Regions from separate parts of the Homo sapiens genome. Here all the other regions are linked to region 3. The links come from fine-mapping of genetic effects on gene expression. A gene starts in region 3. Each other region holds a variant in brackets. All regions are shown on one strand. Distances are from middle to middle. Region 1 has its middle 62 kb from the start of CLINT1. Region 2 has its middle 23 kb from the start of CLINT1. Region 3 holds the start of CLINT1 (clathrin interactor 1). Region 4 has its middle 75 kb from the start of CLINT1.

Evidence for each region. PIP is the estimated chance that this variant, and not a neighbour inherited with it, causes the effect.
Region 1: its variant is the best candidate, but not a certain one, in a credible set for the expression of CLINT1 in lung (TOPMed, PIP 0.89).
Region 2: its variant is the best candidate, but not a certain one, in a credible set for the expression of CLINT1 in whole blood (INTERVAL, PIP 0.64).
Region 4: its variant is the best candidate, but not a certain one, in a credible set for the expression of CLINT1 in whole blood (TOPMed, PIP 0.50).

The regions. Positions count from the first base shown.
Region 1 is chr5:157,916,871-157,925,044 of GRCh38, forward strand. No RefSeq gene overlaps it. Among named protein-coding and RNA genes, the nearest start is that of CLINT1, 62 kb to the left of the region's middle. RefSeq lists silencers at 1,175-1,284, 2,797-2,939. The variant G/C (reference allele first, on the strand shown) is at 4,686.
Region 2 is chr5:157,877,612-157,885,785 of GRCh38, forward strand. No RefSeq gene overlaps it. Among named protein-coding and RNA genes, the nearest start is that of CLINT1, 23 kb to the left of the region's middle. RefSeq lists an enhancer at 3,896-4,541. The variant C/T (reference allele first, on the strand shown) is at 3,600.
Region 3 is chr5:157,855,041-157,863,214 of GRCh38, forward strand. CLINT1 (clathrin interactor 1) reads right to left here and starts at 4,105. Exons shown (of 12, transcript NM_014666.4): 1 at 3,890-4,105. The coding sequence starts at 3,930. RefSeq lists enhancers at 3,735-4,316, 4,154-4,393.
Region 4 is chr5:157,929,679-157,937,852 of GRCh38, forward strand. It overlaps the pseudogene RPLP2P2 and the pseudogene LOC124901193. Among named protein-coding and RNA genes, the nearest start is that of CLINT1, 75 kb to the left of the region's middle. The variant C/A (reference allele first, on the strand shown) is at 3,874.

The DNA.
Region 1 (8,174 bases), 62 kb after region 3:
AGTTACTCGGGAGGCTGAAGCAGGTTAATTTCTTGAACCTGGAAGGAGGAGGTTGCAGTGAGCCGAGATCGCGCCACTGCACTCCAGCCTGGGTGACAGAGCGAGACATCCGTCTCCAAAAAAAAAAAAAAGAAAAAAAAGTGACCGCAGCCTCTTCTCTTGCCTTTTCACCTTCTGCCATGGGATGATGCAGCAAGAAGGCCCTTTCCAGATGCGGGCCCCTTGACCTTGGACTTCCCAGCCTCCAGTACTGTAAGAAATATTTCTTTTCTTTCCTTTTTTTAAATTTTTTTGAGACAGAGTCTTGCTCTGTCACCTAGGCTGGAGCGCAGTGAGATAATCATGGCTCACTGCAGCCTTGACCTCCTGGTCTCAAGCAATCCTCCCACCTCAGCTCCCTGAGTAGCTGGGACCACAGGTGTGTGCCACAATGCCTGGCTAATTTTTTATTTTTAGTAGAGACAAGGTCTCACTATGTTGCCCGGGCTAGTCTTGAACCCTTAGGCTCAAGCAATCCTCCTGCCTCAACCTCCCAAAGTGCTGGGATTACAAGTGTGAGCCACTGCACCCAGCTATTTCTTTTCTTTATAACTTACCCAGTCTGTGGTATTCTGTTATAGCAACACAAAATCAACTAAGACAGTAAGTTTACAGAGAATCCTCACCCTTGATATCTGATCACCCTGGCCTGCCTTTAGCAAGAATCCTGTTAGGCTAATTTAGCAAGAATTATCCTACCCTCCTAGTGATTTCCCATCCATTCATGCCTCTGCCCTGCTTCTTGGCCAAAATCCCCATTTTTTTGTTGTTGTTGTTGTATTTGGAGTTGTGCCCAATCTCCCTCCCCTACTACAAAACCCCATTACAGTAGTCTTTTGAATAAAGTGTTCCTTATCAGGATCAAAATAATTCTTTTTATTTACCACTGTCATGCAGCCACCCAACAGGTTAATTTGCCACTGGCCAGATACAGACAATTTATCAAGACAGGAATTGCAATATAGAAAGACTTTAATTCACACAGAGCCGGTTGAATGGGAGACCAGAGTTTTATTATTACTCAAATCAGTCTCCCTGACAATTCAGAGACTGAGGATTTTAAAGGATAATTTTGTGGGTAGGGAGCCAGGGAGTGGGGAGTGCTGATTGGTTGGGTGGGAGACAAAAATCATAGGAAGTCAAGGCTGTCCTCTTGTGCTGAGTCAGTTTTTGAGTAGAGGCCACAAGACCAGATGAGTCGGTTTACTGGTCTGGGTGGCGCCCTCTGCTGCATCAAAATGCAGGGTCTGAAAAGTACCTAGAGCACTGATCTTAGGTTTTACAATAGTGCTGTTATCCCTGGGAGCAATTAGGGAGGTTTGGAATGTTGTGGCCTGTGGCTGCATAATTCCTAAACCATAATTTCTAATCTTGTGGCTAATTTGTTAGTCCTACAAAGGCAGTCTGGTCCCCAGGCAAGAAGGGGGTTTGTTTCAGAAAAGGGGTGTTATCTTTGTTTCAGAGTTACACTATGAACTAAGTTCCTCCCAAAGTTAGTTTGGCCTATGCCCAGGAATGAACAAGGATAGCTTGGAGATTAGAGGCAAGATGGAGTCAGTTAGGTCAGATCTCTGTGACTGTCATAATATTCTCACCGTTACAATTTTCACAAAGGTGTTTTCAATGTTCTCTCATAGCATCTTGCCTTCGTCTCTTCTTTCCACTTGTTATGCTGTATTGTAATTTCCTGTCCACTCATCTTGTCAGCAGCAGCAAATCCATACCTCAGAAGATAAAATTTGACCGAAGGGCACAAGGCAGAGGGAGAAACCGAGGGAAGTTTTAGAGCAGGAGTGAAAGCTTATTAAAAAATTTTAGAGCAGGAACAAAAGAAAGTGAAGTACATGTGGAAGAGGGCCAAGCGAGCGACTTAAGAGATTCAAGTCCATGGTTTGACTTTTGACTTGGGGTTTTATATACTGGCATGCTTCTGGGTTCTCGTGTCTCTTCTCTGATTCTTCCCCGGGGGTAGGCTGTCTGCATACACAGTGGCCTGCCAGCACTTGGGAGGGGCCACATGCTCAGCGTGTTTACTGAAGTTGTGCACTGCCTCACTTGAGGCATTCTTCCTAACTAGTTGAGTGTTCCCAGAGGAAGGTCATATACCAGTTAAACTCCACCCTTTTGCCTCTTAGTGCACATATTTGAGCCCACTCGCCCAACTCCTGAGATCTTATCAGGGGAAGTGGCTGATCACCAGCTTCAGGTGTTTTCTATGTATTGCGAGACTGCTTTTCCCTGCCACCAGCTGCAGCTAATTACTACGTTAGAGAAACAGTTTAACAACTGCCTCACCATCATCTGATGGTGGTGGTTGATGGGCTGGGCGCTCTCCTGCCCTGCTCATATCTGCCTGACTGCCTACTCTAACAACCTGACTTCCTTTTCTCCCTTAACTTCCTGAAGGAAAGGGTGTGTCTTGTTTAAAGTAACATTGCCTGAGCGTAGCAGAGTGTCTAGTGTATAGTAGGTGTAGCAGGACAAGCCGCAGACAAAACTCCTCAGACACCGAGTTAAAGAAGGAAGGGGTTTATTCAGCCGGGGGCATCGGCAAGACTCCTGTCTCAAGAGCTGAGCCCCCCAAGTGAGCAATTCCTGTCCCTTTTAAAGGCTCACAACTCTAAGGGGGTGCGTGTGAGAGGGTCATGATTGATTGAGCAAGCAGTGGGTACGTGACTGCGGGCTGCATGCACCGGTAATTAGATCAGAACAAAACAGGATAGGGATTTTCACAGTGCATTTCTATACAATGTCTGTAATCTATAGATAACATAACTGATTAGATCAGGGGTCGATCTTTAACTACCAGGCCCAGGGTGCGGCACCGGGCTGTCTGCCTGTGGATTTCATTTCTGCCTTTTAGTTTTTACTTCTTCTTTCTTTGGAGGCAGAAATTGGGCATAAGATGATATGAGGGGTGGTCTCCTCCCTTATAGGAACTCACTATAACTTTGTCAATGATCAAATTATTCTACTTCCTTAGGTTTCAGTTTCCTCACCTATAAAATGTAAGGGATAAAGAGAATCGAGATGCCAGTAGGTTTGTATTGTATGCTGACTTTGATCCATTGGTTCTGACTGTCCACAGCTCCATACTGAGAAGGATTATGTGACTGTGACTGCAGTTATAGGGAAGGAGTGTCACGATTAATTAGCTGTAACTGCTACGGTCAGGAAATAAGAAGTGACAGCAAACTGCCAAATATCTGCCAATCTAGAGGAAGATGATTTATCTGGCTCCTGCGAACATCAATCTTGCTCAATCCAGCCATGTCTGCATTATATATTGTGCCAATGAAGAGAAAAACCAAATGTGAAACTGACTAGCTGCCAAAGTTAATGTCATTTGCTGTGGGAGAGACCAGGTGCTTGCCAATCCATTTTCTTTTCACCAATCCACTTTCAGCACACAGCTGGATTATGTTTTTCCAGCCCCTTTGCATTAAGTTTGGACCACAGAGTAGCTACCCACAATGTAATGTAAGCTGCAATGATGATGTAACAGCTCAATGGGTTCTTCTTGCCTGCTGCCCAGATGGAGCTGATTTATCAAAGCAGGGAAATTGCAATGGACAAAGAGTTTAATTCATGCAGAGCTGGCTGAACAGGAGACCAAGGTTTTATTATTATTCTAATCAATCTCCTCCAATGTTTGGAAGTTAGGGGTTTTCCTTTTCTTTTTTCTTTTTTTTTTTTTTTGAGACGGAGTTTTGCTCAGTTGCCCAGGCTGGAGTGCAGTGGCGCAATCTCGTCTCACTGCAAACTCCGCCTCCCAGGTTCAAGTGATTCTCCCGCCTCAGCCACCCGACTAGCTGGTATTACAAGCACTGGACATCATGCCCGGCTAATTTTTGTATTTTTAGTAGAGACGGGGTTTCAGCATGTTGGCCAGGCTGGTCTTCAACTCCTTACCTCAGGTGATCCACCCGCCTCGGCCTCCCAAAATGCTGGGATTACAGGTGTGAGGCACCACTCTCTGCCAGGTTAGAGGTTTTTCAAAGATGGTTTGGGGAAAGGGGTGGAGGTGGATAGACAACTGGGGCTTGCTGCTGATTGGTTGGGGATTCAATCATTGGGGTGTGGAAAATTGTCCTCCTGTGTGCTGAGTTGCTTCTGGGTGGGGCCACAGGAGTGGTTGGCAGGTCCAGATGGAGCCATCGATGTCAGACTTGTAAAAAACTGGAAAATACATTTGTTTAGTTTTTTTTTTCCTTGTTTTGAGATGGAGTCTGACACCCAGGTTGGAGTGCAATGGTGTGGTCTCAGCTCACTGCAACCTCTGCCTCCTGTCTCAGCCTCCCGAGTGGCTGGGATTACAGAAGTATGCCACCACACCCAGCTAATTTTTGTAGTTTTAGTAGAGAGGGGGATCCACCATGTTGGCCAGGCTGAGTCTCAAACTCTAGACCTCGTGATCCGCCTGCCTCGGCCTCCCAAAGTGCTGGGATTACAGGAGTAAGCCACTGCACCCGGCCCGGAAAAGACATCTCAAAAAGTCAATCTTACATTCTACGATAGTGATGTTATTTGCAGGAGTAATTGGGGAAGTCACATATCTTTTCACTTCTGGAATAACAGCAGCAACAATTTACACCTCAGCAGAATTCAAGCTCCTCTATCCTCCTAGCCTGGTAGTCTCTCATTAG[G/C]TTTATAAAGGCAGTTGAGTTTTGGGGAAGGGTGATTATCATTTAAACTATAAATGAAATGTCTCCCAAAGTCAGCTTGGCTTAAGTCCAGGAATAATTAAGGGCAGCTTGAAGGCTAAAGGCAAGAGGGGGCTTGGCTAAATGACAGCCCCCCACCAATGCGATAATTCTCTCACTGGTATAATTTTTATGCAGGTGGTTTCAATGTTGAGTCACATCTGGTCAAGTACAGGAGAGCCTTCTTTATGCTCCTTCTTTCTCCCTTATTGGCTGGTTCCATATAGAGAATCCGCTGGAAGGATACAAGCACCTGAGTGATGGCATCCCACTTGGACTTCGATGAAATGAGAAGTGTGGGAGCCATAGGTTCTTGGCCCTCTAAAGGTTTGGTAAAAATCACTGATATGAGGTGGATTGGTTAATAGGAGAAGAGGCATACAAATGTATGTAATGTGTATACACAGGAGCCTTCAGAATGAAGACCCAAGTTTGCAATGATTTACAGAAATATATATACCATTTTGAGATTACAGAAATAATAAGGGCTTAGGTTCTGATAAAAAAGTTTATAGGAGGGGGAGTAGAGGCTTGGCTAGCAAAGGTGGCCTTGTTATGTAAATGAAGCCTCCCTCAGAGAGAATAGATGTGAAAGATTTCTTTTTAGACTTTTAAAGATGTCAGACTCTCAATCTCTTCTGTGTCTGGCGAAAGGGATAGGAAGGGGAGGACAGGCTGCATTCTTGTAGACTCCATACAGATTGAAAATGTCCCCACTTAAGACAGCTTTTCAAGGCCACTTCTGTCAGGATGGCCAAGCCACAGCCATTTCAAAATATGTCATAGAAATATAATTGGGCGGCTGGGCGCGGTGGCTCACGCCTGTAATCCCAGCACTTTGGGAGGCCGAGGCAGGTGGATCACTGCAGGTCAGGAATTCTAGACGAGCCTGGCCAACATGGTGAAACCCCGTTTCTACTAAAAATACAAAAATTAGCTGGGCGTGGTGGCAGGTGCCTGTAATCCCAGCTATTCCGGGGAGCCGAGGCAGGAGAATCGCTTGAATCCAGGAGGCAGAAGTTGCAGTGAGCCGAAATCGCACCATTGCACTCCAGCCTGGGGGACAAGAGCGAGACTTCATCTCAAAAGAAAAAAAAGAAATATAATTAGGCATAAAATATTTTTTCTTATATATACATATTTTCATAGAGACGGGGGTCTCATTATGTTGCCCAGTCTGGTCTTGAACTCCGGGCTCAAGTGATCCTCCTACCTCAGCCTCCCAAAGTGCTGGGATTACAGGCAGGAGCCATCATGTCCAGATGGGGTAAAATATTTTAATTTCCTTCAGAGGTACTTTTATCTCTCAAGCCACTGAGATTTTGGGAGTCAAGGAGGGTTGTTATCCTAATATATCTGCCTGTCTTATTTTCTTTTTATTTTTAGGTGTGGAAGCATTGGGGAGGAATAAGCCAAATGTTAATGGCATTCGTGGAAGTCAATAAAAATTATGTTTGATAATTCAAGGCTTCAGCTAACATAAAGTAATGACTTAAGAACTGGAGAAACTTTAGGCCGGGTGCGGTGGCTCATGCCTGTAGTCCCAGCACTTTGGGAGGCCGAGGTGGGCTGATCACCTGAGGTCAGGAGTTTGAGACCAGCCTGGCCAACATGGCGAAACCCCATCTCCACTAAAAGTACAAACATTAGCTAGGCGTGGTGGCGGATGTCTGTAATCCCAGCTACTCAGGAGGCTGAGGCAGCAGAATCGCTTGAACCTGGGAGGTGGAGGTTGCATTGAGCCGAGATCATGCCACTACACTCTAGCCTGGGCAACAAGAGCAAGACTCCATCTCAATATATATACACACACACACACACACACATATATATCTATACACACACGCATATATATATATGCACACATATATACACACACACATATATATACACACACACATATATACACACACACACACATATATATATCTATACACACACATGCATATATATATACGCACACATATATATACACACACACACACACATACCTGAACTGGAAAAATTTTAAAAGCTTGTGTTGTTCTGTTCTATCTGCATTTACTATTGTTCTTCCTACCCTTGGTTCTTTTTCCATATAAGGTGACCCACCACAGGGGCATGACAAAAACCTCACATGTAGTATTCCCTACCCCTTTCCCTAGATATCGATTACCCCACAGTCCCTGCAGATGAAAAAAGTTTATGGCTCTTTAAGCCCAAGAAGCTAATGATTTTTCCCTTCAAACTTCCTGCCTTCTACAATTTGGCTGCAAAAGATTTCAAGCTCATGACAGAAACAGAAAACATAGGTTTAAAATATTCACGCCTCTCTGTCTGCAGCAACCATGAATATGCATATCCAGCCAGACAGCTGCTGCCTTCTGGTTCTGGAAGGCAGGGCCTGGGCAACGCGAAGGGAAAGTGGGAGAAGTTGACCTTCCCTGGCTCTGCCCTACAACCTTGGACATCTTACTTTCTAAGCTCCTAGCTGTTGAGCCCTCATTCTTCCCCACTAGTTATGGTTGGAGAGCTGCTTGATTTTCATGAAGTAAAATGTTTTCTCCCTGTGGTCCCATCAAAACTTCCCCATCCCAAAGCCCAGTTCCTTCACCTGGCTCCCTTTTCAATGCACCGGTCTCACCAATTTTGGGGAATTGATGGCTTACTGGTTCCCTAGTAAGTGAAGTGGCTTTCTTTGCTGCCCATGTGATAAATGAACATCTCTATAGTAGCTTATGGGGGACAATGTCGCTTGAACTGGAGGTTTCACACTGGGCATTTTAGGCCAGTGAGGAAAAAAGAAAGGCTCTGCAGCAGACCAGTGGGGGAGATCCTTGGAAGTACATGTTCTTCTTGCCCTCCTCAAATCATCCTTTGAAGGTAGCAGTGTGATGTGCCAGTACCCAGGGCCGGTCCAGTGTGTCTGCTGACCAAAGCCACAGAGACAGTGGGAGTTTGATGTAATGGGAGGCAGGATTTAAATGTTGTGTGCCAGGGTGCATGTGGGAGGGCATTCTGAGCCAAGGTCAATGGGATGGTATAGATTTCTGGTTAAAACAGGGCAGCAAAAGGACACTGAAACTGGGTGGAGATAGAGGTTTTAGAATGCAACCAAGGGCAAATAAGAGAATAAGGCAATTTGAAGTTTGTTTTTTCATTGTTTCCTTTTCTTTTTGTTCTTTTGTATTTATTTTTTGTGGGTGTCATAGAGTAGGCCTGAGGGCTTGAATTCACCCACGACTTTGAGAAGAGAAACCCACACCACTACTGCTATTAAAGTATCATATTTATTGAGCCCTTACCATGTCCCAGTGGCTCATTTATTGCTTCTTGCAACTCTGCACTAAATATCACGATCCCACGTTCATAGATGAGGAAACTGGGGTTAAAAAATAACTTTGAGAGGATACAAAGCTAGTAAAGTGGCAGAGACTAGAGCCTTGTTCTCAA
Region 2 (8,174 bases), 23 kb after region 3:
AGCCTCCAAAGTGCTGGGATTATAGGCACGAGCCACCATGCCCAGCCCATGCAGCCATTGATATACTTTTGGGTTCTACTTTTTGGCTACTATGAATAATGCTGCTCTGAACACTTGTATACAAATTTTTCTGCAGAAATGTTTTCAATCCTCTTGAGTATATACCTATAAATGGAACTGATAGGTCACATGGTAACTCTGTGTTTTTGCTTGTTTGTTTTTTAGAGACAAGCGCTTGCTATGTTGTCCAGGCTGGCCTCAAACTCCTGGGTTCAAGCAATCCTCCTACCTCAGCCTCTGGAGTCTATATTTAAGTTTCTGAGTAGCTGCCAGACTGATTTACAAAGCGGCATTACCATTTTACATTCTTCCCAGCAATGTATGAGGGTTTTAATTTCTCCACATCCTGGTTACAATGTATTATCTACTGTTGCATCATGAGGTTTAAAAAAAAAAAAAGAAAAAGAGAAAAGAGAACTTACTATCATCTGTCTTTTTTATTGTTAGGTATGAAGTAGTATCTCATTTTTTTTTTATTTATGTTTCCCTGTTGGTTAGTGATGTTGAATATCTTTTTATGTGCTTATTTGCCATTTGTACTTTTTTTTTTTTTTGCTCTTGTTACGTAGGCTGGAGTGCAATGGTGTGATCTCAGCTCACTGCAACCTCTGCCTCCCAGGTTCAAGTGATTCTCCTGCCTCAGCCTCCCGAGTAGCTGGGATTACAAGCACCTGCCACCACACCCAGCTAATTTTATATTTTTGGTAGAGACAGGGTTTCTCCATGTTGGTCAGGTTGGTCTTGAACCCCCAACCTCAGGTGATCCACCCGTCTCTGCCTCCCAAAGTACAGTGATTATAGGTGTGAGCCATTGCACCCTCTGCCTTATTTATTTATGAGACAGAGTCCTGCTCTTTTGCCCAGGCTGGAGTGCGGTGATGAGATATTGGCTTGCTGCAACCTCCGCCTCCCGAGTTCAAGCAATTCTTCTGCCTCAGCTTCCCAAGTAGCTGGAACTACAGATGCACACCACCACACCCAGCAAATTTTTGTATTTTTAGTAAAGATGGCATTTCACTATGTTGGTCAGGCTGGTCTCGAACTCCTGAGCTCAAGTAATCTGCCTGCCTTGGCCTCCCAAAGTGCTAGGATTACAGGCATGAGCCACAGCGCCTGGCCCCATCTCTATTTAAATGAATGAATGAATGAATGAATGAATGAATAAAACTATTGCCTAATGTGAGGTCCTGAAGATTTACCCCTACATTTCTTTTTTTTTTTTTGAGACACAGTCTTGCTTTGTCACCCAGGCTGGAGTGCAGTGGTGCAATCTCTGCACACTGCAACCTCCACCTCCCAGGTTTAAGCGATTCTCCTGCCTCAGCCTCCCAAGTAGCTGGGATTACACACATACACCACCACACCTGGCTATTTGTTTATGTGTTTTAGTAGAGACAGGGTTTCACCGTGTTGCCCAGGCTGGTCTTGAACTCCTGAGCTCAGGCAATCCATCTGCCTTGGTCTCTCAAAGTGCTAGTGAGAGGTGACAATGTGTTAGCAGCCCTCGATTGCTCTCAGTGCCTCCTCTGCCTTGGCATCCACTCTGGCCATGCTTGAGGAGCCTTTCAGCCTACCACTGCCCCTCTCTGGGCTGGCTGAGGCCAGAGCCAGCTCCCTCTGCTTGCGGGTAGGTGTGGAGGGAGAGGTGCGGGCATGCTCACGGGCCAGCGCAAGTTCCGGGTGGGCATGGGCTCAGCAGGCCCCGCACTCAGAGCTGCCAGCTGGCCCCAGGCAGTGAGGTCCTTAGCACCCGGGCCAGCAGCTGAGGAGGGGGCACCGGGTCCCCCAGCACTGCCGGCCCACCTGTGCCATGCTCAAATTCTCGCTGGGCCTCAGCTGCCTCCCTGCGGGGCAGGGCTCGGGACCTGCAGCCTGCCATGCCCGAGCCCCCTGAACGGGGGGATCTCACGTGGCCTGAGCCTCCCCAACAGGTGCCACCCCCTGCTCCATGGTGCCCAATCCCATCGACCACCCAAGGGCTGAAGAGTGCAGGCGTGTGGCACAGGACTGGCGGGCAGCTCCACCTGCGGCCTCGGTGTGGGATCCACTAGGCGAAGCCAGCTGGGTCCTGAGTCACGTGGGGTCTTGGAGAACTTTTACATGTAGCTGGAGGATTGTAAATGCACTAATCAGTACTCTGTGTCTAGCTCAAGGTTTGTAAACGCACCAATCAGCACTCTGTGTCTAGCTCAAGGTTTGCAAATGCACCAATCAGCACTCTGTGTCTAGCTAGAGGGTTGTAAATGGACCAATCAGTGCTCTGTGTCTAGCTCAGGGATTGTAAACGCACCAATCAGCACCCTGTCAAAACGGACCAATCAGCTCTCTGTAAAACAGACCAATCCACTCTCTGTAAAACGGACCAATCAGCTCTCTGTAAAATGGACCATTCAGCAGGATGTGGGTGGGGCCAGATAAGGGAATAAAAGCAGGCTGCCCGAGGCAGCAGTGGCAACCCACCCAGGTCCGTTTCCACACTGTGGAAGCTTTGTTCTTTCACTCTTTGCAATAAATCTGGCTGCTGCTCACTCTTTGGGTCCACACTTCTTGTATGAGCTGTAACACTCACTGCGAAGGTCTGCAGCTTCACTCCTGAGGCCAGCGAGACCTCGAACCCACCGGGAGGAATGAACAACTCTGGACAGGAGGAATGAACAACTCTAGATGTGCTGCCTTAAGAGCCGTAACACTCACCAACAGGGTCTGCAGCTTCATTCTTGAAGTCAGTGAGACCAAGAATCCACCAATTCCAGACACATTTTGGCGACCAGATGGGACTATCGCCAAGCGGTGAGACCATTGCCTATGGCTGAGCAGTGAGACTGTCACCTATCGCCAAGCAGTGAGTACCATCGGACCCCTTTCACTTGCTATTCTGTCCTACTTTTCCTTAGAATTCGGGGGCTAAATGCTGGGCACCTGTCGGCCAGTTAAAAGCGACTAGTTTAGCCGCTGGACTAAAGACATGGGTGTCAGGCTTCCTGGGAAAGGGCTTTCTCTAAAAACCCCCGACTCTTCGGCGTTGGGAGTGTTGGTTTGCCTGGAACCAGCTTCTGCTTTTCCTGTACTTCAGGGCTGAGCTGAGGGTTGACAGAGAGGAAAGCCATTCAGCTCTGGGGTCCTGACAACAAGTTGGTTGAGCCTGTGGCCATGAGTGGAACTCTCAAAGGCATGTTGCCCAAGCGAGACTCGCCCATCTATCCTACCTATCCTGATCCTTGCCCTCTGTGTCCTAATGCCTGCCAGACAAACTTCCTCTCGCCTCTCTTCTCCGAGGCTAGTCCTGCTTCTAAAAATCGCTCCCTGTCTCTGGTGCTTTTCTAGTTTCTTCTATAAGAATGATTTCTAGTATAAACTCCAGGACTCTGTTACCTTCTTTAGACACCCGGGCTCACCAATCAGAAAGACAAAATTTTTGGCCAAAGACTCGTTGGGGGTACTATCTGGAATTTTAGGATCCCTCCTCAGACAAGTAGGCCTAACAAAAGCTATTCCTGAAGCTAGGATATGGGGAGCCTCAGAAATTGTATCCTTCCTCA[C/T]TATTCATATAAGTGAGGACAAAAGGCATCACTCTTCCAACTCTGGGTTGGCATCACTCTTCCAACTCTTCCCTCCCTCAGGGCATGGCCCTCCACTTCATTTTATGGGCATAACATCTTTATAGGACATGGGTAAGGTCCCAATACTAACAGTAGAATGCTTAGGACTCTAACAGGTTTTCGAGACTGCATCAGTAAGGTTAGCCACTAAATCCGATTTTTCTTGGTCCTCTTTGTGGTCTAGGAGGACAGGCAAGGGTGCAGGTTTTCAAGAATGCATCAGTAAGGGCCACTAAATCCGACCTTCCTCGGTTCTCCTTGTGGTCTGGGAGGAAGACTAGTGTTTCTGCTGCTGCGTTGGTGAGAGCAATTATTCCAATCAGCAGGGTCCAGGGACCGTTGCGGGTTCTTGGGCAGGGGTTGTTTCTGCTGCTGTCAGTGAGCACAACTATTCTGATCAGCAGGGGCCAGGGACCATTGCAGGTTCTTGGGCAGGGGGAGAAAAAAACAAATCAAAACCGCAGGCAGTTTTTGTCTTTCAGATGGGAAACACTCAGGCATCAACAGGCTCACCCTTGAAATGCATCCTAAGCCATTGGGACCAATTTGACCTGCAAACCCTGAAAAAGAGGCAGCTCATTTTTTTCTGCACTACGGCTTGGCCTCAATATTCTCTCTGATGGGGAAAAATGGCCACCTGAGGGAAGTACAAATTACAATACTATCCTGCAGTTTGACCTTTTCTGTAAGAGGAAAGGCAAATGGAGTCAAATACCTTATGTCCAAGCCTCCTTTTCATTGAGGGAGAATACACAACTACGCAAAGCTTGCAATTTACATCCCACAGGAGGACCTCTCAGCTTACCCCCATATCCTAGCCTTCCTATAGCTCCCCTTCCTATTAATGATAATCCTCCTCTAATCTCTCCTGCCCAGAAAGAAATAAGCAAAGAAATCTCCAAAGGACCACAAGAATCCTCAGGCTATTTGTTATGTCCCCTTCAAGCTGTCGGGGGAGGGGAATTTGGCCCAACCCGGGTACATGTCCCCTTCTCCCTCTCTGATTTAAAGAAGATCAAGGCAGACCTGGGGAAGTTTTCAGATGATCCTGATAGGTACATAGATGTCCTACAGGGTCTAGGGCAAACCTTCGACCTTGCTTGGAGAGATGTCATGCTACTGTTAGATCAAACCCTGGCCTTTAATGAAAAGAATGCGGCTTTAGCTGTAGCCCAAGAGTTTGGAGATACCTGGTATCTTAGTTAAGTAAATGATAGAATGACAGCTGAAGAAAGGGATAAATTCCCTTCCGGTCAGCAAGCCATCCCCAGTATGGATCCCCACTGAGACCTTGATGCAGACCACGGGGACTGGAGTTGTAAACATCTGTTGACCTGTGTTCTAGAAGGACTAAGGAGAATTAGGAAAAAGCCCATGAATTATTCAATGATGTCCACCATAACTCAGGGAAAGGAAGAAAATCCTTCTGCCTTCCTTGAGTGGCTATGAGAGGTCTTAAGGAAATATACTCCCGAGTCACCTGAATCACTCGAGGGTCAATTGATTCTAAAAGATAAGTTTATTACCCAATCAGTCACAGATATCAGGAGAAAGCTCCAAAAGCAAGCCCTGGGCCCTGAACAAAATTTGGAGGCATTATTAAACCTGGCAACCCCGGTATTCTATAATAGGGACCAAGAGGAACAGGCCCAAAAGGAAAAGCAAGATCAGAGAAAGGCCACAGCCTTAGTCATGGCCCTCAGATAATCAAACCTTGGTGGTTCACAGAGGACAGAAAATGGAGCAGGCCAATCACCCTGTAGGGCTTGTTACCAGTGTGGTTTGCAAGGACACTTAAAAAAAGATTGTCCAATGAGAAACAAGCCGCCCCCTCATCCATGTCCACTATGCCAAGGCAATCACTGGAAGGTACACTGCCCCAGAGGACAAAGGTTCTCTGGGTCAGAAGCCCCCAACCAGATGATCCAACAACAGGATTGAGGGTGCCTGGGGCAAGCGCCAGCTCATGTCATCACCCTCAATGAGCCCAGCTACGTTTAACCATTAAGGGCCAGGAAATTGACTTCCTCCTTGACACTGGTGCGGCCTTCTCAGTGTTAACTGCCTGTCCTGGATGGCTGTCCTCAAGGTCCATTACCATCTGAGGAATCCTGGGACAGCCTGTAACCAGGTATTTCTCCCACCTCCTCAGTTGTAATTGGGAGACTTTGCTCTTTTCACATGCCTTACTTGTTATGCTTGAAAGTCCCAAACCCTTATTAGGGAGGGATATATTAGCCAAGGCTGGAGCTATTATCTACATGAATATGGAGAACAAGTTATTCATTTGTTGTCCCCTGTTTGAAGAGGGAATCAACCCTGAAGTCTGGGCATTGGAAGGACAATTTGGAAGGGCAAAAAATGCTGCCCAGTCCAAATCAGGCTAAAAGATCCCACCACTTTTCCTTATCAAAGTCAATATCCCTTAAGACCTGAAGCTCATAAAGGATTACAGGATATTGTTAAACATTTAAAAACTCAAGGCTTAGTAAGGAAATGCAGCAGTCCCTGCAACATCCCAATTCTAGGAGTACAAAAACCAAACAGTCAGTGGAGACTAGTGCAAGATCTTAGACTCATCAGTGAGGCAGTAATTCCTCTATATCCAGTTGTACCCAACCCTTATACCCTGCTCTCTCAAATACCAGAGGAAGCAGAATGGTTCATGGTTCTGGGACTCAAGGATGCCTTCTTCTGTATTCCTCTGCACTCTGACTCCCAGTTTCTCTTTGCCTTAGAGGATCCCACAGAAAACACATCCCAACTTACATGGATGGTCTTGCCCCAAGTGTTTAGGGATAGCCCTCACCTGTTTGGTCAGGCACTGGCCCAATATCTAGGCCAATTCTCAAGTCCAGGCACTGGCCCAAGATCTAGGCCACTTCTCAAGTCCAGGCACTCTGGTCCTTCAGTATGTGGATGATTTACTTTTGGCTACCAGTTTGGAAGCCTCATGCCAGCAGGCTACTCTAGATCTCTTGAACTTTCTCGCTAATCAAGGGTACAAGGTGTCTAGGTCAAAGGCCCAGCTTTGCCTACAGCAGGTCAAATATCTAGGCCTAATCTTAGCCAGAGGGATCAGGGCCCTCAGCAAGGAATGAACACAGCCTAAACTGGCTTGTCCTTTCCCTAAGACATTAACACAGTTGTGGGGGTTCCCTGGAATCACTGGCTTTTGCTGACTATGGATCCCTGGATACAGCCAGATAGCCAGGCACCTCTATACTCTAATCAAGGAAACCCAGAGGGCAAATACTCATCTAGTAGAATGGGAACCAGGGGAAAAAACAGCCTTCAAAACCTTAAAGCAGGTCCTAGTACTAGCTCCAGATTTAAGCCTTCCCACAGGAGAAAACTTCTCTTTGTACGTCACAGAGAGAGCAGGGATAGCTCTTGGAGTCCTTACTCAGACTCGGGGGACAACCCCACAACCAGTGGCATATCTAAGTAAGGAAAGTGATGTAGTAGCAAAAGGCTGGCCTCACTATGGGTAGTTGCAGTGGTGGCTGTCTTAGTGTCAGAGGCTATCAAGATAGTACAAGGAAAGAAACTCACTGTCTGGACTACTCATGATGTAAATGGCATACTAGGTGCCAAAGGACGTTCATGGCGATCAGACAACCACCTACTTAGATACCAGGTGCTACTCCTTGAGGAACCAGTGCTTCAGATATGTATGTGTGTGGCCCTCAACCCTGCCACTTTTCTCCCAGAGGATGGGGAACCAATCGAGCATGACTGCCAACAAATTATAGTCCAGACTTATGCTGCCAAGATGATGTCTTAGAACTCCCCTTAGCTAATCCTGACCTTAACCTATATACCAGTGAAATCTCATTTGTGGAGAATGGGATACAAAGGGCAGGTTATGCCATAGTTAGTGATGTAACTGTACTTGAAAGTAAGCCTCTTCTCCCAGGGACCAGTGCTCAGTTAGCAGAACTAGTGGCACTTACCCGAGCCTTTGAACTGGGAAAGGGAAAAAGAATAAATGCAAATACAGATAGCAAGTATGCTTATCTAATTCTACATGCTCTTGCTGCAATATGGAAAGAAAGGGAGTTCCTAATCTCTGGGGGAACCCCCATTAAATACCACAAGGAAATTATGGAGTTATTGCATGCAATGCAAAAACCCAAGGAGGTGGCAGTCTTACACTGCCAAAGCCATCAAAGTGGGAAGGAGATGGGAGAACAGCAGCATAAGCAGCTGGCAGAGGCAGCAGAAAGGAAAGAGAGAAAGAGACAGGAAGTCAAAGAAGGAGACAGAGAGGAAGAGACAGAGAGACAGAAACAGAGAGACCAAAAGTCAAAGAAAGAAGGAGAAAGAGAGGAAGAGACAGACAAAGAGGGAATCAGAAAGAGAGAGACAAAGATGGAGTCATAGAGAGAGACAGACACAGAAAGTCAAAGAGAGAGTCAGAAAGAGAGGAAGAGACAAAGAAGAAATCAAAGAGAATGAAAGAGAGATGGAAGTAGTAAAGAAAAAAACAGTGTACCCTATTCCTTTAAAAGC
Region 3 (8,174 bases):
GGCTGAGGCAGGAGAATCATTTGAACCCGGGAGGTAGAGATTGCAGTGGGCTGAAATCACGCCATTGCACTTCAGCCTGGGGGATAAAGTGAACTGTCTCCGAAAAAAAAAAAAGGCGGGGGGGGGGGCGGGTCACTGATGAAAGAGATTTACCACTAATATTACTCCTTGCAAGGAAAGAGAAGGATTCGCTGAGCTTGAACAAATAAGTAGCAGTTTTGATCTACCACTACCATGTCACCTTCATTACATTCCTCAAATCTAGAGAGAAAATAGAACTGCAGCAACTTTCAATTTTACCATGTATAGGATGACAAAATATAAACATGTCCAATTTTATTACAGCCACAAGTAAAGATAGGTCATAGGATGACAATGATTAAGCTAGTGCTCCTAGTTGGTGGGAATGGTGCCACTTATCCTTTCCTGCCACATCGCCTTTTATGCAACTTGACGAGTGGGAAGATACTGGCATTCCAAGCTCTGGCAGGCCTATGGCTTTATCTGCTTCCCTCAGTTCCACAATGTTCTGCAAAACAAATCCCTCTACTGCCACCAGGAGGTGCAGCGATTGTGGAAAATATACCCCCACTTCCAGAAAAAGTCTTCAAGGTCTCAAAAGCCAGTGTTTGAAATACATCATTATCACTTTGAGTAGCTGAGATGGGTGGATCACCTGAGGTCAGGAGTTCAAGACCAGCCTGGCCAACATGGCGAAACCCCGTGTCTACTAAAAATACACAGATTAGCTGGGTGTGGTGGCAGGCACCTGTAATTCCAGCTACTAGGGAGGCTGAGGCAGGAGACTCGCTTGAACCCCAGAAGTGTAAGCTGCAGTGAGCTGAGATCTCGCCACTGCACTTCAGCCCCGGGAACAAGAGCGAAACCCCATCTCAAAAAAAAAAAAGAAATACATCATTACACTTAAGAGCCGCTACCATACTGAATCTAAGAGTGGCTCCAGGAAACACATTTTTCAGAGTACATTTCTTTTTCTGAAGTAAAACCTCACTGGGTATCAATATACACTAAAAGTCCTAGTCTTCCTGAGTCATGGTCTTATTTATTGCATAAAATATTTAAGTATAACATTTATTGATTACCACTTTTTAAGAAAATTTCCCTTTTCAGCCTAAATTGTCTACAGAGGATAATGGCTCCAAAATTTGTCTGCTATTGTAAAAACTAGTTCCAACTATTTTTCCTTGATGGAAATGCATTTCTCCAATAGCCATCAAAGGTGGAAAAAGTCTTACTCTAGCCAGGTCCCCTCATTTTACAGATAAGGAAGGCAAAGTCTGGAGATTCATGTGATTCTGCCTCAAATCATACATACAGCTAATTAAAAACGTAATGCCAGAATATGAACCAGATAGTTAAACCCCTAACCTTTCTCTCATAGAAGCCCTCATTCTATTGATCCATCTATCTGAATAGCCCTTAATCACGTCACTGCTTCTTCATTTGCAAGTTCCTTCATCATTTTATACCTCTGATAATCAGACCAACCATTCTATGGATGCACGTCTATTATGGCATTATAAGGTGCACAGTCTAACAGATCCACGGTTCTGTAAGATGCTTACATTTGGGGGGAAGAATTTCTTCTCTTCTTGCCAGTGAAAAGATGAAAATTAAAATCCCGAGTACTCATCAGTAAATCAACCTCATGTTCTAATCTTAATATGTGTCAGACACCCACAAAAGCCTTAAAAAGTCTTTGGTGACAACATTCTTCTATGTTCTTGAATAATTTGGTTCAAGTCTACATCCTAAATTGGGTAGTAAAAAGATAGATAATATTTTTCAACAATAGCTTTTCCTTTAGATAACTACTTACATGGCAAATTTAACCTAAAGCACGTGAAGATTAGTAACAAGTGTGATAAGCAAATATGAAAGGTACAACAATAGTAGGAATATTGCCTCGATTTCTGTCTTACGAACAATGTACAGCCTCTTCAAATTTTTGAGTACCACAAATTTGGTCCTCTAAGAGAACAAGGTGTTTCTTAATGGTTTTATTCTTCTGACCTCTGACTGAGAAATAAGGAGGCAGTGCCAGGCACGGTGATGCATGCCTGTAGTCCTGGCCACTTGGGAGGCTGAGGTGGGAGGATCACTTGAGCCCAGGAGTTGGAGGGTGCAGTGAGTTATGAACACACAAAAGAATGAGACCCCATCAAAAAAAAAAAAAAAAAAGGTAGCTTTTAGTCTTCTTTTGGCCTTTAAAAAACTATTTAAGTTGATATCCTAATCTTTACACAATATACTAAAAAAATGCCAATGAACCTAGATCTGGAAAAGATCTAGTTTATTTCATCTTCGGTAAGCAAAAGCAAAGAATATATAAATAGCTAAATAGTCCGAAATAAATAGCTGAAGCCTTAATAGCCAAATGAGTTGTTATAAAGGAAAATTATTAAAGCAAATCACTTTTCAAACTTGAAGCTTCTTTCTTAAAGAGGTTTATTTCACTCTAAATGCAAAACATTTGCTAGTTTCAAAAGTACACTAATATAAACATATTCTGTTAAGGGCTTTATATGCAATACAATCCCTTAACCCTTAAGCCTCACAACAACATTCTAAGGTAGGTATCGTTGCATTTTCATTTTGTACCAGAGAAAACTAGGGCACTGTGAGGATAAGTAACTTCCCCAAGGTTATAAAGCTTGAACCCAGCTTTGCAGGTTCTGAAACCTGTGCTCCTTAGGCACTCTATTGCCTTCTTGGTAGCACAGAAAATATAAAAATATGGTCAAGCTCTAAGTTCTATCTGATGTATCAGACAAGGCACTGGAAATTACTTTGTTTCCTGGTGTCAAGAAAACAGTTTGCTATCTATACTTCCTGATTTTAGGTTAGGTGGGTGGCACAAATCAACTGTTTTTCTCACCACACTTATTGCATAATCATTAAAGCCCCAAAGGAAGAGGACTGCTTAAATTCTTAAACTTTATTTCCTGCTGGCCTAGAAGACCTTACTTAACCACTGTTATACCTGATATACTCATTTTAAAAGTTAAGGTTTTCCTTGTGCAAGTAAGAGACTAAAGTTATTTCAGTCTTAAAGGAAATCAACTACGTACTGGTCGTTTTACCTGCTTTTAAAAGCAGATCAACAGGATATAAACCTGGGTTGTTTTTTTCCTTAAGAGGACATTTCTTAATGACCTCTTAATTTAATCGAATGGAACAAGTAGCACACCAAAAATGATGTGTAGTGGAAAAAGAAACAGAAGAAAAAATCGCAAGAAGTCATATAGTGATCTACTTTCACTAGTGTTAGAAAAGCAAAGGATGAGTGTCTTCTTGAGTAACTTCAGGCTGACCACAATAGCCACTTGTTACACTACTACCACCCACTCCAACACTTCAGGTTCATTAGGAATTAAGAGGAGGCAAGGAAGATAAAAGACACACCCCAACCAGGTCTAAGGTCTCTCCGTACTACACCTTGAGGGACACAGGGAACCAGTGCATTGTGCCCCCCACCCCCAAACCTTCCCTGCTCCCCAGGAGGCAAAGCCCACGGCCTGGGGCCAAGACAGTCCTCCGGCCAGGGCAGTGACCCAGCGCCAAACAACCCGCCCCTTATGACCAAAGCGTCGGCACCCAGGGGTTGGAATAGGGGAAGGGACGGGAAGGCCTGGAAAGGAGAGAAGGGTGGCCAAGAGGATGTTTTTTTTTAAAACGAGGGAGGGTCCCTCCCCAGCCTCGCCAGCGGGGATGAGGCCCGGGGCCGGGAAGGAGCGGGCCGCCGCCATGATGGGGCTGGCAGAGCCAGGGGGCGTGACGTGGGCAACCCCTAGCCCAAGGCCAGCTCCTTCTCCCCCTCCCCCCTCCCCCACGTGGGCCTCGGCCACAACTGCCCCCCGATACTCACGCTTTGTCCACCAGCTCGCGCACCTTCCACATGTTCAACATCGTGCCCCGCGCGGGACGGTCCGCCGCCTCCCTCTCCTGCTCCCCACGGACCCCGGAACACTTCCGTACCGGGGCAGTTCCAGGCCGGGGTCACCGCCGCCCGCCGCCTCGAACTCCCCCAGTCAGCTCCTTCCTTTGCCACAGCAGCGGCGCCGCCGGTGACACGTCGAGACGCGGCAGCACAGGCGCTGCGTGGAGCGGAAGTGTCCGACTTTCCGCCGCTGCGCGCGGGGCACGCCGGGACTTGTAGTTTTCCCTGAGTGCCGAGCTCGGCCGGTTGAGTTGGGAGAGCTGAGAGGTTGAGTTGGGAGAGCTGAGAGGAGTTGGGATGGTTTCTCTTAAGCTTTCCCAGTCCCCGGCCCCAGACCTACCGAGCCAGAAATTTTGGAGGTGGGGCCCAGCGATCTGTGCTTTTACAAATCCTCTAGGTGATTCTGATCACGCTCAAGTTTCAGAACCACTGGTGCAGGGTCTAGTCACACTCAAACACTTTTCAAATGTAAGGCAGTATTACTATGTTATTAGTAATGATTATACAGAAGTATGATTGGCATACGCATTCCTCATCGACAGACACATCGCTGTATTTATTTCCCAATGCCCAAGTACACTTAGATCTCTAGGCCTTAGTTTCCACCCCTGTAAAATTGAAGAACTTGTATTCTAAATCCTTTTCCGCTCTAATTCTATGATACAATGTTTTATATTTAGACAACTACCTGAAATCCTTGTTAAATGCTTTACTATAAACCTCAGAAACTCAGTTCACACTCCACGGGAAACTAAAAAGCCAACATTATATATACACGCACACATACACATACATATGACAGGTTTGTGTTTTTTAAGGATAAATATGCACATTGCTTCCATTGCTTTGTTGCAATGGTTGTCATCACTTCCTTCTCTACTTACTCATTTTTATCAATGCTCATGTTAAAGCTACAAGCAACCTTAAGTTTCATTTGATCCATCTGCTGAAATTTTACAGTTCTTTTCATTCTACAAATATTTATTGAGCATCTTGTATGTTCCAGAAGTGGGGAATATAGTTAAAGACCCAGCTCTCTTGGAATTCAAACGTAATTGGAAGAAACATATAATAATCAAGGAAACATTTAAGATAATTGCATATAGTGTAATTGCTTAGCGGGTTCTTTCTGCCCACTTTACAGATAAAGTCAATTCACTGCGACCAAGTCATTGCAGTGAAGAGTTTGACATGAGGCTGGCCATGCCACTTGAGAGACAGAGTTATTACTCAAATCAATCTTCCTGAACATTTGGAAGCTAGAGTTTTTCAAAGATAGTTTGGTGAGCAGAGGGTTAGGGCATGGGTGCTGCTGATTGGTTAGGGATGCAATCAGAGGAGTATGGAAAATGGTTCTCCTTTGCTGAATCGGCTTCTTGATGGAGGGCCAGCAGAGGAGTGGCTGGTCTGGGTGGGGTCATCCGTTTGTCAGAAATGCAAAAGCCTGAAAAGACGTCTTAAAAGGCCAATCTTAGGTTCTACAATAGTTCATTACAGGCCAGGCACAGTGGCTCACGCCTGTTATCCCAGCATTTTGGGAGGCTGGGAGGCCAAGGCAGGAGGATCACTTGAGCCCAGGAGTTTGAGACCAGCCTGGGCAGCAAAGTGAGATCCCCCTGCCAGCCCAGTCTTTAAAAAAAAAAAAAAAAAAAAAAAAAAAGCCAGGCGTTGGGGCACACTCTTGTGAGGCCAGCTACTTAGGAGGTTGAAATGGAAGGATCCCTCGAAAGGATCAAATAAAGACTCCAATTCACAAAGAAGTGAAATTGATGGTTGCTAGTCATGAAGCTAGGTAACAATAATCCCAAATAAACAACCTCGGACCCTGGTCCCTCAAGTGAAACCACCTCTTTTCTATTTTCTTTTTCTTTTTCTTTTTTTTTTTTTTTGAGCTGGAGGTCTCACTCTGTTGCCCCAGCTGATCTGAAACTCCTGGGCTCAAGCAATCCTCCCACCTCAGTCTCTCAAGTAGCTGAGACTACAGGAAACCCTCTCCAAGTTGCATTCACTTAATTACCGAAAGCAGCTTTGAAAAAAGTTTCAGTAAGGCTTTCGGATTGAGGCCCCAAGAGAAAGAAGCAAGGTTGAAGGAATTGACAGGCAGAAAATTACAACAAGCAGAAATCCAAAGTTATCTCAGAGCTTTGTAATGGTAGGAGTACTTGGGCTGATATGAAGTGAGTTGGAGAGGTGGGTGGGGAGAGGCAGGTAAAGATGAGCAGAGATGGGTAGAGGAATAGGGCTTTCAAATAAGAAGTTTGTGTTTTTTTGTTGAAAAGACTATCCAGCTCAAGATCCCAGAGATGGAATGTGGCCAGAGGAGATAAGAAAGAGAAACTACTTTGCATAAATAAGAGCTCAGCAAGTTAACTTTCAAACAAGTGAGTCCAGAGTACACCTGCAGAACGGGCCTGGCCCAGAAACAACCACCTTCCCTCCCCTGGGCCTGTTTGGGTGTTCACAGCAGGGCACTGTCAGCCTCTTTGCTCATTCCAAAACCAAGTTTGCATACGTCTAGACCCATCCTAGAGTTGTCACCTGTGACATTTGCACAGTCAGCTGGAGCCATCTGGAATGTAAAGCCAAAAAATCTGCCTGTCCGCTTCTAATTCAAGAGAGCCTTTAAAGGACTCAGAAAAATCAGACCCGGAGACTTTGTTAAAAAGTGATCTCCAGAGACTATTTGCATTTCAACAAAGTGTTCCATTTTTACCTTTTATCTTGCAAGTTCGAGAGCAGTTTCCATAGTAACTTCTTTGTGGCAATTCAAATATGTTCATGGTAGAAAAATAAATGAGAAAATGCTCCACCCACTCTTCTTCAGGAAAACATATATTTTTTACTAAATGAGCTGACACTTTTAGTAAGGCCAAACCAACACACGTTTTGAAGGAAAAAAAAAAAAAAAAGGCCGGATGTGGTGGCTCACGCCTGTAATCCCAGCACTTTGAGAGGCCAAGGTGGGTGGATCACCGGAGGTCGGGAGTTCGAGACCAGCCTGACCAATATGAAGAAACCCTGTCTCTACTAAAAATACAAAATTAGCTGGGCGTGGTGGCGCATGCCTGTAATCCCAGTTACTCGGGGGGCTGAGGCAGGAGAATCGCTTGAACCCGGGAGGTGGAGGTTGCAGTGAGCTGAGATCGCATACGAAACTCATCTCAAAAAAAATATATATATACATATATACTCAGTTATGTTAATGATGTGTGTTGTGAGAAGCAGTGTAGACAATGGACACTGACTGCTTATTTCATGCGGTCACCTCCCTAGAGTTCCCTTGGGGGAGTTTAATTCATGGTACATGGGTATGGCAGCCATGGAAAAGCACCATTCAGACCTACTTTCAAGAGAACCAGTTGCAAGGAGTGTGGTTGACTGACAGCTTCCTGCTGTCTTCCTCTGGGATCATTTATGCCAACGGCATACTCTCTGTAGGGCTATTCCCAGCAATGACTGAGAAAGGTGTGCTGGAGCCAGGCCATTTCTGCCCAGTGCTGGACTCCTTCACCGGGCAATCATTGACCTGGGCTTCCCATCGACTTGGCCCAGATTTCCTCAAAGCCTTGCTGCAATCAGATACTCTTCCTACCCAATCTTCCTTCCTTCCTTCTCTTCCTTGACAGGTGTCAGAACTTCCTTGTGGTCTCAGACCCTTACCACCTGCTCTTGCTCTCGCTTCCCTTTTTCCTTCATAGGCATTTCCCCTAATATATCTTATACTTCTAATTCCATCTTGGCTTCTGTTTCCTGTAGTACTCAAACTGACACAGCAGGTGAACATTTGCACCTTGGTTTCAGTATTTGGACTCACGAGTCTTGTTTTTGATCACACCTGACTGTTCATCTCCAGAGGTCAGAATATTGGTTTCTTTCTTTCTTTTTTTTTTTTTTTGAGATGGAGTCTCGCTCTGTCACCCAGGCTGGAGTGAAGTGGTGCAATCTTGGCTCACTGCAACCTCCGCCTCCTGGGTTCAAGCAATTCTCCTGTCTCAGCCTCCCGAGTAGCTGGGATTACAGGCATCTGCCACCAAGCCCAGCTAGTTTTTTGTATCTTTAGTAAAGACAGGGTTTCACCATGTTGGTCAGGCTGGTCTTGAACTCCTGACCTCAGGTGATCCACCCGCCTCGGCCTCCCAAAGTGCTGGGATTACAGGTGTGAGCCACTGCTCCTGGCCAGTTTTTTTTTTGTATTTTTAGTGGAGACAGGGTT
Region 4 (8,174 bases), 75 kb after region 3:
CTACTTGGGAGGCTGAGGCAGGAGAATGGCGTGAACCCGGGAGGCGGAGCTTGCAGTGAGCCGAGATCCCGCCACTGCACTCCAGCCTGGGCGACAGAGCGAGACTCCGTCTCAAAAAAAAAAAAAAAAAAAAAATACAAAAATTAGGTGGACATGGTGGTGCATGCCTGTATTCCCAGCTGCTCAGGAGGCTGAGGCGGGCAGATCAGTTGAGCCCAGGAGGTTGAGGCTGCAGTGAGCCATGATTGCCCCACTGCATTATTCCAGCCTGGGTGACAGAAGGAGACCCTGTCTCGGCAAAACAAAAAAACAAAACAAAAAAAATTCTCTCAGTTCTGAAGGCTGGGAAGTCTAATAGCAATGAGGTTCTTCTTGTGGCATCATTCCATGGCATGTGGCAGAAGAGCAAGAGAGGGAGGGAGAGGGGAAGAAGGGGGAGGAAGGGAGGGAGATGATAGGGAGAGAGACATGGGGGGAAGGGGCTAAACTCATCCTTTTATCAGGAAACCACTCCCACAATATCAGCATTAATTCATTAATGAGGGGCTCTCATGATCTAATTACCTCTAAGTTCCCACCTGTCAACACTGCTGCACTAGGCATTTAGTTTCCAAAACATGAGCTTTGAGGGACACATTCAAACCATAGCAGCAATTCAAAATGATGCCTCTTGGGTGGGAATGGTGGCTCACGCCTGTAATCCTAGCACTTTGGGTGGCCAAGGCAGGCAGATGGCTTGAGGTCAAGAGTTTGAGACCAGCCTGGCCAACACTGGTGAAACCCCGTCTCTACAAAAAAATGCAAAAATTAGCTGGGCATGGTGGTGCATGCCTATAATCGCAGCTACTTGGGAGGCTGAGGCATGAGAATCACTTGAACCTGGGAGGCAGAGGTTGCAGTGAGCTGAGAGTGCCTCACTGCACTCTGGCTTGGGTGACAAAAACAAAAAACAACAACAAAAAAACACCTCTCTAAGCAGAATCCTTTCATGAATAGTAGAGGAGCCAATGAGATAGGCCTTGAAGCTTGCTTCCAAGGTCTCCATGGATCCTTTGAAAGTCAAGCCCATAAGTTACCATAGTATTCTTTTTGCCATTTAATAAATGCTTTTTGAACAAGATTGTGTTAACCACGTGCTGCATGACATGAAAGAGGAAAAGGCACAGTTTATGCCTGTGAAGAAGAAGCAGGTTGTACTTCCATAGAGAGACGCTTGCCAATAACAGCTGGCATGGTCCCAGGGCCTAGTCAGGGTGCAGATGATAAGCAAAAAAAGAAATAGGTAGCACGGGCAGGGCAGCTGTCCAGGAAGCCTTTTTTCTTTTTTTTTTTGAGACGGAGTCTCCCTCCGTCTCCCAGGCTGGAGTGCAATGGCGTGATCTCGGCTCACTGCAACCTCTACCTCCCAGGTTCAAACAATTCTCCCCACTCAGCCTCCTGAGTAGCTGGGATTACAGGTGCCCACTATATGCTGGGCTAATTTTTTTTTTTTTAACTTGAGAGATGTGTAAAAGGCTTTATTTGGAGGGGAGCAGGAGTTTAACCAAAGAGGCCAAATCCCATGTCATCGTTTTACTCTTCAGACTCCTCTTTCTCATCTTTCTTCTCCTCTGCTGCAGCAGGGGGTGGAACCAGCTGCAGGGGCTGCAGAGCCTGGGGCAGCAGAGACGGCCACAGCCCCACCAGCAGGTACATTGGCAAGCTTGCTAATACTCTTGGCAATGACGTCTTCAATGTTTTTTCCATTCAGCTCACTAATAACCTTGTTGAGCCGGTCATTGTCCGTCTCGATGCCCACGCTGTCCAGGATCTTCTTGATGTCCTTGTTGCTGGGGGAGGGGTTACCCCCGAGGGCAGCCAGCAATTAGGAGGCGATGTACCGCATTGGGGCGGTGGTGGAGAGGCCTCACGTGTGTGACCTCGGCGGCGTCAGGGAGGAAAAACAATATTTGTATTTTTAGTAGAAACGGGGTTTCACTGTGTTGGCTAGGCTGGTCTCGAACTCCTGACCTCAGGTGATCTTCCCACCTTGGCCTCCCAAAGTGCTGGGATTACAGGTGTGAGCCACCATGCCAGGCCCAAGAAGCCTTTATTTTATTTTTATTATTATTTTTTCTGAGATGGAGCTTCACTCTGTTGCCCTGGCTGGAGTGCAATGGAGCAAACTCGGCTCACTGCAACCTCTGCCTTCCCGGGTTCAAGCGATTCTCCTGCCTCAGCCTCCCGAGTAGCTGGGATTACAGGCACTTGCCACCACACCCGGCTAACTTTTGTATTTTTAGTAGAGATGGAGTTTCACCATGTTGCCCAGACTGGTCTCGAACCCCTGACCTTGTGATCCACCTGCCTCGGCCTCCCAAAGTGCTGGGATTACAGGTGTGAGCCACCGCGCCCGGCAGGAAGCCTTTTTAGAGGAGGCAAGATGGAAGAGTTTAGGGTGGGAGTAAATAAAGCTGGCTGGAGACATGCCATGTGCCTCTGAGAACTAGCAATTTGGTGCTCAGTAGGTTAATAATGTGGTGATACTCTAAATTGATAGTCCTTAGATACTTGTCAATGTTAGTTTAGAGGAGAAGTGGTGCATGCATGGAGAAGGATGGAGGAGGAGGCTCGCTTTTGTCAATCTTTAGTTTCTCTTTTATTATTCCCAATTATTTATTTAATTTTTTAAGAGACAGAGTCTCATTCTGTCACCCAGGCTAGAGTGCATTGGAGCGATCACAGCTTGAGCTATGATTACTGTAAACTCAAGCTCCTGGGATCAAGCAGTCCTCAGCTTCCCAAGTAGCTATGACTACTGGCATGTGCCACTATTTCCAGCTAATTTTTAAAATTTTTTGTAGAGATGGTGTCTCACGATGTTTCTGAGGCTGGTCTCAAACTCCTGGCCTCAAGCGATCCTCCCACCTCAGCCTCTCAAAGTGTTGGGATTACAGGTGTGAGCCACTGCTTCTGGCCCCCAATAATGTATTATTGTTCCACTCACCAAAGAAAAAGTTCATCAGACTAGCTGCTTAGTGACTCTGTGTTGGTACTGGGCCTGCTCCTTGAGGCAACTCTTCTTCCTCACTCCTTCTGCAACAACTTTATTCCATATTTTATTCAATTCCATACAGAGCTTTCCCTGAGACAAGTTCTCCACTTCCTCATGTTTGTCATGTGTTTCAGGGCCCCTTACAGATTGGTACCCCCATCAATTGCCCAACAAGGCCCTTCCTAATCCAGCTTTAACCCTATTAGGATGTTATTGACATATACATTGTGACTAAAATGTTTCTATGTATAATTTACTCTTTGTAAGGGACCTTACCACATATTCTATGAGGGGCCACCTCTGGGGGTGGCGGAAGAGGCAGGACATAGTCATGCCCTGGAAGGAGCGTTAGAGTGGGCAGCAGGAGGCTGGTTTTGAGCTGCGGCTTTACAACTAACTTGCTGCATGATCCCGTGTTAAGTCACAGTCTCAACCTGGCCCTTCATTTCTTCCTCTAACTATGAAATATTGGGCTAGAACCAGGGTGGCAAAACAGGTTTTGTCTTATGTGCTAATCCCAAACTGTTGGTAACAGCTTACTCTACTGATTCATAGAGAAAACCTTTTAGGCCACATCTGGGCTCTGGAAGAAAGAGTGATCAATTAGCAGTTTCTACAATGAGTAAAGAAATGGGGTAGTGATGGTGGTGATAGCATGAGTGCCTTATTTTTCGATTCCCTTGGTTGAATACGTGCTAAGAAATTCCATTCAGAATTCTGTAAACATGATGTGAATATCGGTTAAACATTCCCGGAGAGTTTCTCTACTTAAAATTAGAATTCTGTAGACTTCACTAAATGATACCTAGGTTATTTAGAGCAGGAAAATAGCTATAATT[C/A]TTTGCTTCATGAGAATGGCTTTGCTTCTGGCCAGCCTCATTAGGATCTACACATTTGCAGTTTTTCTACATGTGGGGAATTCTTACACTGATAGATTCACACTATCACTAAGTCCTTCTTGTGACCAATAGCACACATTAAACATTTTGATTATAAAATGATATGACCAAAAATAAAGCACAAGGAAACAAAAAGCTGAACACTGTAAACCACATTAAAATGAAAAGTTAAAAGAAAAACCGTAGGCTGGATGAAAATATTTGCAAATATTTACCTAAAAAGTACTTAAAAGATAAAGTACTCCTAAAATCAACAAGAAACATACAAACACTGGCCAGGCACGGTGGCTCACACCTGTAATCCCAGCACTTTGGGAGGCTGAGGCGGGTGAATCACCTGAGGTCGGGAGTTCAAGACCACCCTGACCAACATGGAGAAATCCCATCTCTACTAAAAATACAAAATTAGCCAGGCATGGTGGCACGTGCCTGTAATCCCAGCTACTCAGGAGGCTGAGGCAGGAGAATCGCTTGAACCCGAGAAGTGGAGGTTGCGGTGAGCTGAGATGGTGCCACCGCACTCCAGCCTGGACAACAAGAGCAAGACTCCATCTCAGAAAAAAGAAAAGAAAAGAAAAGAAACGAAACATAGAAACAGCTCTGTAGAAAGAGAGCAAAGAATATGAATAGGCAACTCAAAAAAGAAAAAATGTAAGCCCCATTAGATAGGAAAAATATGAAAGATTAAATCTTTTTAATAAAGAAATGTAAAATGAAGCAAGATAGTATTTCTCTGTATCATATTGTATCAAATTTCTTTTTCTTCTCCTCCTCCTCCCCCTCCTTCATATACTGGCAAATATTTTTCAATGTCGACATAGAAGTAAGGCAGAAAAGGGCATAAATTAGTGCAGCCATTTTTGGGGAAAACTTGGAATCATCTATAAACACTTTAAGTGCATATCCTTTGACCCAGTGTAACCATCTGATGGGTTCTTCCTGCCTGCTGCACAAATAAAGACCATGGCATTGCAGTAAAGAAAGAATTTTATTGATGGGAGGCTGGCCACACCATATGGGAGATGGAGTTATTACTCAAATCAATCTTCCCGAAAACTCCAGGATTGGGGTTTTTAAGGAGAATTTGGTGGGTAAGGGGTCAGAAATTGGGGAGTGCTGATTGGCCGGGTTGGAGATGAAATCATAGGGAGTCAAAGCTGACCTCTTTTGCTGAGTCAGTTCCTAGGTAGGGGCCACAAGACTGGATGAGGCAGTTTATCTATGTGGGTGGTGCCAGCTGATCCACTGAGTGCAGAATAGGCAAAATATCTCAAGCACTGATATTAAGCTTTACAAAAGTGATATTATCCCTGGGAGCGATTTGGGGAGGTTCAGAATCTTGCAACCTTCAGCTGAATGACTCCTAAGCCATAATTTCTAATCTTGTAGCTAATTGTTAGTTATGTGAAGGGTGTCTATTCCTCAGGCAAGAAGCGGTTTGTTTTGGGAAAGAGTTTTATTGTCTTGTTTTAGAGTTAAACTATAAAGTAATTTCCTCTCAAAGTTAGTTCACCCTATGCCCAGGAATGAGCAAAGATAGCTTGGAGGTTAGAAGCAAGATAGATTCAGTTAGGTCAGGTCCCTTTCACCGTGATAATTTTCTCAGTTATAATTTTTGCAAGGGCAGTTTCACTAGCACCTTATGTTTAAATTTTTATCTTAAAAATATTAGTGAAAGTGTGTAAAGATATATATACACACACACACACAAACAACAATCTCTGTCAGATATTTATTGCAATAATTTTATTTTATTTATTAATTATTATTATTTTTTTTGAGATGGAGTCTTGCTCTGTCACCTAGGCTGGAGTGCAGTGGCATGGTCTCAGCTCACTGCAACCTCTGCCTCCTGGGTTCAAGCGATTCTCCTGCCTCAGCCTCCTGTGTAGCTAGGATTACAGGTGCGCGCCACCACGCCTGGCTAATTTTTGTATTTTTAGTAGAGACGGGGTTTCTCCATGTTGGTCAGGCTCGTCTCAAACTCCTGACCTCGTTATCCACCCACTTTGGCCTCCCAAAGTGCTGGGATTACAAGCATGAGCCACCGTGCCTGGCTATTTTTATTATTATTATTTTTTAAGAGAGGGTCTCGCTCTGTTGCCCAGGATGGAATGCAGTGGCATGAATAAGGCTGACTACAGCCTTGACCTCCTGGGCTCAAGGGATCCTCCTGCCTCAGCCTCCCCTGTAGCTGGGACCACAGGTGTGCACCTCCACATCTGGCTAATTTTTCTGTTCTTTGTAGAAACAGGGTCTCACTTTGTTGCCCGGGTTGGTCTCAAATTCCTGGGCTCAAGTGATCCTCTTGCTTCAACCTCCCAAAGTGTTGGGACTACAGGTGTGAGCCACTGTACCTGACCATGGCCCTTTTAAACATTTTAATGTTTAACTTTTTGTTATAAAGAGCAAATATAAAAGTATATTTGAGAAAAAATAAAAATATTTTAAGAAATAATATATATCACAATTTCAGAAAACACTATTAGGGCAAACAGAAACATGTAATAGCTGTACTTTTATAAATCAAATAATTTTTTTGTTGTTGTTTTGAGATGATGTCCTGCTCTGTCACGCAGGCTGGAGTGCAGTGGTACAATCTCGGCTCAGTGCAGCCTTCACCTCCTAGGTTTAAGCGATTCTCCTGCCTCAGCTTCCTGAGTAGCTGGGATTATAGGTGTGTGCCACCACACCCGGCTAATTTTTGTGTTTTTAGTAGAGATGGGGTTTCACCATGTTACCCAGGTTGGTCTTGAACTCCTGACCTCAAGTGATCCACCTGCTTTGTCCTCCCAAAGTGCTGGGATTACAGGTGTAAGCCACCACGCCCGGCCTAAATATAACTTTTTAAATGTTTCATTTATTTAAACTGCAGTGAGCCGAGATCGTGCCATTGCACTCCCGTCTGGGAGTGCAATGACTCTGGTATTGTCAGTCTTTTTAATTGTAGCCATTCTAAGGATCGTTTAATGGTATCTCATTGTGGTTAAATTTGTGCTTCCTTAATTATTATTATTATTTTTAAATTTTGTTTTATTTTCAGTTCTGGGATACATGTGCAGGACGTACAGGTTTGTTAACATAGGTAAATGTGTGCCATGGTGGTTTGCTGCACCTATCGACCCATCACCTAGATGTTAAGCCCCACATGCATTAGCTATTTTTCCTGATGCTGTCCCTCCCCCTTGCCTCAAAAGGCCCCAGTGTGTGTTGTTTCTCTGCCTGTGTCCATGTGTTTTCATTGTTCAGCTCCCACTTATAAGTGAGAACATACAGTGTTAGGCTTTCTGTTCCTGTGTTAATTTGCTGAGGATAATGGCTTCCAGCTCCATCCATGTCCCTGCAAAGGACATGAGCTCGTTCTTTTTTATGGCTGCATAGTATTCCATGGTGTATATATACCACATTTTCTTTGTCCAGTCTATCACTGATGGGCATTTGGGTTGATTCCATGTTCTTTAATTATTAATAATGATGAGGCCAGGCAAGGTGACTCATGCCTGTAATCCCAGCATTTTGGGAAGCTGAGGTGGGTGGATCACTTGAGGTCAGGAGTTCTAGACCACCTTGGCCAACATGGTGAAACCCCATCTCTACTAAAAAAATACAAAAAATTAGCCAGGTGTGGTGGCGTGTGCTGGTAGTCCCAGCTATTTGGGAGGCGGAGGCTTGAGAATTGCCTGAACCTGAGAGGCTGCAGTGAGATAAGATCATCCTACTGCATTCCAGGCAGGGTGACAGAGTGTGAGTCTGTCTCAAAAAAAAAAAAAAAGAGCATCTTTTTGTGTGCTTGTTATCTGTATATCTGTTTTGGTAAAATATCTGTTCAAATATTTTGCTTGCTTTATAATTGTTTTCTTTTTAAAATTTTTATATTTTTAGACAAATTCTAAAAGAGCTGTAACACTGTTTGTTTTCTTATTATTGAGTTATAAGTGTCCTTTATATATTCTAATTAAAATGCTTTGTCAGATACCTATTTGCTGACATCGTCTCCCAGACTGGGTCTTGCCTTTTCATTTTCTTAACAGTGTTTTTTGTAGAGCAATATGTTTTAAATTTTGTTGAAATCCAATTTATTGAATTTATGGGTCTTTTTTTTTTTTGAGGTGGAGTCTCACTCTGTTGCCCAGGCTGGAGTGCAGTGGTGTGATCTCCACTCACTGCAAGCTCTTCCTCCCGGATTCTCGCCATTCTCCTGCCTTAGCCTCACTAGTAGCTGGGACTGCAGGCACCCGCCA